Linked DNA regions of Homo sapiens. The protein of the gene in region 2 interacts with the protein of the main gene of each other region in a biochemical or structural test. Each region holds a gene or a part of one and is shown on either strand. Other genes may lie near its edges.

Region 1 (3,754 bases), on a different chromosome or scaffold from region 2:
GAAAACTTGCATATTGTTTATCAAGAGTTGAATGTATTGAGGTATTAAATGCTTTGAGGGAATATGAAGTGGACAGAGACCTATTTAATTAGAGATCGGGCATAAATTGATATAAATACCAATATGTGAGTTAAGTAGCAATAAAGAATTTCATTACGTTAGTAAGTGCATCATTATACCTTTGGGTTTTTTCCCCCTTGTGATTAGAACAGAAATGTGTTTGATAGCAATAGAAATCCATATTTACTTGTTACCATGTGATACTGAATGTTAATATTCAGTGCCTGAAGGGTGTTTTCAAGTGTTTCTTAAGGTGTGATGAACTAATCAGGTTACTCACTTGGGTTGCTGGTTGAAAATGAAGATTCATGGTCCCACTGCAAACCTACCGAATTAGACTTTCAGGAGGCAAAACATCTGCAGTTTTGTTTGTTTTTGTTCTATTGAGACAGAGTCTTGCTCTGTTACCCAGGCTGGAGTGCAGTGGCGCGATCTTGGCTGACTGCAACCTCCGCTTCCTGGATTCAAGCAATCCCCCTGCCTCAGCCTCCTGAGTAGCTGGGACTACAGGCGCACGCCACCATGCCCGGCTAAGTTTTGTGTTTTTGTAGAGATGGGGTTTCGCCATATTGGCCAGGCTGGTCTGGAACTCCTAATCTCAGGTGATCTGCCCACCTTGGCCTCGCAAAGTGCTGGGATTACAGGTGTGTGCCCAGCCCCCTCTGCAGTTTTAACAGCATTTCTGGTTGATTTATGTGGAATTTTAAGAATTGTATTCTGAATCATAACTATTTTCTCCCCCAAATTCCTTATGTGCTTGAAAGAGTTTTTGTGTGTTTGTGTTAAAAGCCACATATCATAAAATTTGCCATCTTAACCTTTTTTTCATCTTAACCATTTTTAAGTGTAAAGTACAGTAGTGTTAACTGTATAGATGTGGTTCTATGACAGATATCTAGGACTTTTCACCTTACAACTTTTATTGAAGATAACTTTATATACCTTATAAACAGACTATACCCATTGAATGGCAACTTTCTTTCCCGCCCCCCCCGCCCCAGCCTATTTTGAGAGTTTTTCTGATGTTGTATGCTAAATGAATTGTAATAGTTGTGGGATTCCAGCCATAAAGTGGTTTGGTTCATTTTGATGTCCTGATTCATTTGCTTATCAGAATTTGCCAAACAAATGGATTCCAGTTAAGTTATTGAGTGGCATTTTAAAAATTACTTTTTAAAAACTCAGATAGATATACAATTCTTAGATTTTTGTTTTGGATAGAAGGAGCTAACTCTGTGTTCTGGTTTCTGATTAATAAATGATGGAGGAATTTTTTGTGAAATAAATGGTGGCAGAATGATATTTCTCAAATTTTCCTGTCAAAGTAATGACATGGAAGAACATTTAGAGGAGCCTGTTGCTGAACCAGAGCCTGATCCTGAACCAGAACCAGAACAAGAACCTGTATCTGAAATCCAAGAGGAAAAGCCTGAGCCAGTATTAGAAGAAACTGCCCCTGAGGATGCTCAGAAGAGTTCTTCTCCAGCACCTGCAGACATAGCTCAGACAGTACAGGAAGACTTGAGGGTATGAAACGTGTCTTCATTTTTATTCTATTCCTAGTTATTTTTTTTAAAAAAAGTTTCTGTTCTTTTGTATTGCTGTTTGGTTGACTTGTAGATACATTTTCATATTGGTGGTTCATTTCAGGGAAATTTCTTAGATATTGAGCCATATGTTTGATAAGAGAGAGGTAAGATGTGTATTAGTTTATTTCATCAAAAGAAACCACTCCCTTCCCCGAGGTAACTTGAATGCCTGTTAGACCAGAAATTTTAGGTGCCACTGTAGCACCCTATCAGTGATTCCTTTTCTATTTAATATTTAATCTTTTACACTATAAATTATTACATACTTGTTACTACAAGTGCATAACATCTTTTCAAGAAAAATAACATGGCAGAATATACTTTTTCTATGAAATTTTATTGAAGATAACTTTATAGTGGAAGTAGAAATGAACTGCTGAAGTAAAACTTCTTTTCTAGTTGGCATACCTGATTTCAGAAGTTTTCAGTTTGTCCTTCTGAGTCTCGTCAGGGTGATTGTTAACTGAACTATCGTTGAAACCTTTGCATTTGGTGCTCTGGAAAGGAATATAATTTTTAGTGCTGTGTTTATAGGCTCAGGGTTATGTCATTTGTTTGTTCAATAATTCAAATTCCTGCTGTGTGTTAGGCATTGTTCAAAGTGTAGGTTTTATATTGGCAAAACAGATAGGGGTTCTTGTTCTCTGGCAGCTAATAGGTGAGTAGGAAAGAGCAATGTTGAAATGACTTTAGCTTGCAAGTGGAAAAAATTAGCTGGGCATGGTGGTGCCTATGTGTGGTCCCACCTGCTTGGGAGGCTGAGGTAGGAGGATGGCTTAGCCTGGGAAGTCAAGGCTGCAGTGAGCTATGATTATGCCACTGCATTCCAGCCTGGGTAATAGAGTAAGACCTTGTCACAAGAACAAAACCATAAGAAGCAAGTGGAAAAGTAGGTTGGCTGGACCAGCTGACCACTTAGTTGGTTATTATAGTAACCCTAGTGAGAGAGAATGATGGCTTGAATTAGAGTTGTGGCAGTGGAAATGGAAAAGAAATAATTAGGTAGAATAACAGGTTCTGGCGATTTTTAAATGTGCGAGAAAGGTGTTTATGATGATTCTACAATTGATGTAATTGAGTCGATGTTTGTACAATGGATTGGATGGAATCACAGTAGGAAGAGCTGAGCTGATTTTGGAGGAGAGGGAATTTTGTTTGATTCACAGATTTGAATGAAAGTAGCTTTTGTTGGGCCAGGCGTTGTGGCTTACGCATTTAATCCCAGCACTTTGGGAGGCTGAGGCCAGGAGGATTGCTTGAGTTTAGGAGTTCAAGACCAGCCTGGTCAATATAGTGAGACTTCATCTCTACTAAAAAGAAAAAATAGCTGGACATGGTGGCACATGCCTGTAGTTTCAGCTGCTTGGGAAACAGGTGGGAGGATCACTTGAGCACAGGAGATGTAGGCTGCAATGAGCTGTGTGCATGCCACTGCATTCCAGCCTGGGCAACAGAGCAAGATTCTGTCTCAAAAAAAAAAGTGAGTAGTTTCTTGAACCTAAGCCTCTCGGATTTGCTTGGTACTTGATCATCAGTCCCAAGGAATTTCAGTACTAAATTTTGAATAGCTGAAAGAGAAGAATCTTAATATATATATATAAACTCCATCCTGCCTATGAGAATGTGTTACCGTTTGTTCTGTACAGGAAATCAAGAGTTAGTAGCTTTTATATTGTTTTGATACCTGGTATAATTATGTAATGTTGGTATTGCTCCCTTAGACATTTTCTTGGGCATCTGTGACCAGTAAGAATCTTCCACCCAGTGGAGCTGTTCCAGTTACTGGGATACCACCTCATGTTGTTAAAGTACCAGCTTCACAGGTAAGGTCCTAATAAAACTTGTACATTAGGCAAATTTACTTCTATTGTGGTAATTTGATTCAACAGAGGTTTAGAGAATGTGAAAACTGGTCAGGTGCAGTGTGGCTCATGCCTGTAATCCCAGCACTTTAGGAGGCTGAAGCCAGCTGATCACTGGAGCCTAGGAGTTTGAAACCAGTCTGGGCAACATAGTGAGACCCTGTCTCTACAAAAAATAAGAAATTAGCTGGGCCTTGTGGCATGCATCTGTAGTCCTAGCTACTTAGGAAGCTGAGGTGGGAG
Region 2 (2,795 bases):
CACTCTAGGCAGGCTCAGAACACTTGATATTCCTGACAGCTACACACCTGACATGCAGGTACATACCTGATCGGTGTCATCTCCTAACAAGGATTTTCAGTTCCTCGGGAGAGCAATAATCTTTGTAGGAAAGACATCCCTGCAATAGGTGATATGTGGTCCTTAGAAGTTTTATTCCTTTACTACTTGGAAGAAAAGTTCTTTGGTGATTCTTCTCTGCTTTTGAAGATGATCAAAAGCATCTTCATTGATTTTCTGAAACGAAAGCCTTGTCTGAAACCAATTAATACTTGGGAAACAGCTGGGCTTGGAGGAGTAGAATGCCAGAGATAAATCCATGGCTCCTGCTCTGGCTCTCTTCTGCAGAAATGAGGGCAACAGTGAGGCCACTTCCCTGGCAAATGTGCAGCTCAGGATAGGGAAGCATAAGACCCTCTGTTTAAAAGAGAGTCAAGTAGGTAACCAAAGCCAAGCTCTGTGCAAGGTGCTTTGGAGTTGTAAATTGAGGAGTGCATCCTTGCTGTCTTGAACCATTCTGTTTGCAATGGTGAGACCTTACATAACCTAGCCTTGCAGGGCCGCCACACAACCCTGGAGTCCTAGAGTTGGAGGAACCTTTGTATCCATCTGACTTCTCATTTTGCAGAATATGATGAGAAAGTAGAGGATCGCTCTGTTCACCACTCTTGCTATTCCATTAGTGGGGAGATGCCTGCTAGCATGTGTGAGGGGAACACTCTGATACACTGGGAAGTATCGGAAATTCCCAGAAACACAAACATAAAATAACTCTCCTAGACCCAGGTACTGGGGACTGTCTCAGTCCGTGTGGCATGATAAATAAAAGGTTAGGATCAAGTCTTTGTATTTTTCAAGATGTGGTAGCTGATTATTCCTGTTTTAAGTACTCTGAAATTGATCTGTGATCAATAATACTAATATGTTATCTTTTACCGTATTCTGCCTCTCACTATTGATTTTAATTAGTTAGGAGTATTTGAGCTGTTATTTCTTGAGCTTAATATTTTTTTAGAGTTAACTCTTTAAGGAGATAATCATGGCTGTAGACAAGGCCAGGGCTGGCTGACGTGCCTTAGAAGGTTTGAATGCAATAAAGCGGTGTTTGGCGTTCTCCTGCATTGTAGTGCGGGTACAAAATGCTATTTGTTCGTCATACTGTTGTCAGCAGATGAGCCGCCCACTACAGACGGCTACTGCCCAGGGACCTGCCCAGGCCCCACCCAAGGGCTCCCAAGGGTTGAGATTTCTGCAGACCTATAGCCAGCACACTTAGTCCTGCCCTATATAGAGTTCCTCTTCGGGAAGCTTTTGATAAGGAATTCTCAGACCGATAGGATGTCTGTCTGGGCTTTGCTGCGGGACAGTCTAACTGTGGGGGCTAGGGGAAAGCAGGAGAGTATCGATCAAAGAGTAAGCCACACACGGATAATCAGTTACTAGGGATGGAGGTGTGAGGGTTCATTATATTATTCATTTTACTGTTGTATATGTTTGAAAATGTCTATAATAAAAAGCTTTAAAAAAAAAAAAGAAACAAAAATAGTTCAGGCCAGCAATGGGCCCTCCATGTTCAGTGGATTTTATCCTTGTTTCAATTGGGGTAGGAGTTCCAGGAGGTGTGGATTGGAGGTTGTCTAAAGAATTGAACTGGCCTTTGTCCCTGCTTCCTGGGAGGGAGACTTTCAGTCCTTGACATTTCCAGGGTAATAGGAGTGTCTTTGTTATTTGTGAGGCCATGGGATCACACCTGAGCTTATGCTAAAAGGTGGGATGACTCAGAGCTGGGGCTGGTCACCAGACAGACTGACCATGTGATTAGAGGTTTGAGGCTTTGAGTCAGCCTGACCTATGGGGCGGGGGACTGGAGGCTGAGTTTAATCATCTGGCCAGTGCTTTAATCAGTACATCATGAAACCCTAATAAAAACTCTGGACACTAAAGCTCAGCATAGCTTCCTGGGTGGTGAAGCTGTGGCTATGCCGGCAGGGCAGTGTGCCCTAATTCCACGAAGAGGGGGCATGGGAGCACTGTGCTCAAGACCCTTCCAGACCTTTCCCTGTGTCTTCCTTGGCTTGTGGAGCTGATTTGTATCCTTTATAATAAAACTAATCATAAGTATAGTCCTGAGTTCTGTGATTTTTAGTGAATCATTGAACCTGAGGAAGATCATGGTACCCTCCTGGGATTGTAGGCAGTTGGTCACAAGCGCTGATGGCCTGGGATCCCCACATGGGGCTGGTGTCTGAGGTGAGGGCAGCCCTGTTGGGGACTATGTCCCTTCGCTGGTGGCATCTGATCTAACTCTGCTGGTCGTTGTTAGAATTGTGGTGCGGTACACCAGGTGGTGTCAGAACAGAGGCGGTGGGATCTGCACACCTTGAGTAAGCCCTTCTCGACCAGCCTGTTGGAACAAAACACACTACTCTTCATGGGAGCCTCCTGAGTTTCTTCTCACCTGTGTGAAGTCCCCTTTGTTTACTGTCCTGAGTTTTGTTCTCGCTCATCTCCAACCCCTCTTGTAGTTTTTTCTTCCTCACTGTCACTGTAACCATAAAAATACTCAGTATGTCAGTGATAGACTTGTCTTTCTATTCAGAGATGACTCTTCAACTGTCCGGGGACACTTTTTTCCAATAAAAAGTTCAGGATGGTAATTTGTGACTCCTTACTAAAGGCAAGCTGGGAGTGCGTGTGTGTGTGTGTGTGCACGCATGTGTGGTTTTTAAGTCATTTGTGGTCTGCTGGGGTGACCCATGGGCTAAGTTTGGACTTGC

What was found.
Region 1: the proteins of TRIM25 (region 2) and G3BP1 form a complex in vitro, tested with the Homo sapiens proteins (one study listed by BioGRID).

Annotation. Positions count from the first base shown.
Region 1 is NC_000005.10:151,795,842-151,799,595, forward strand, and holds part of G3BP1 (ras GTPase-activating protein-binding protein 1), read left to right. Parts: intron 1-1,385; coding exon 1,386-1,587; intron 1,588-3,370; coding exon 3,371-3,472; intron 3,473-3,754. UniProt on the Homo sapiens protein: Protein involved in various processes, such as stress granule formation and innate immunity. Plays an essential role in stress granule formation.
Region 2 is NC_000017.11:56,887,255-56,890,049, reverse strand, and holds the end of TRIM25 (E3 ubiquitin/ISG15 ligase TRIM25), read left to right. Parts: 3' UTR 1-2,141; downstream 2,142-2,795.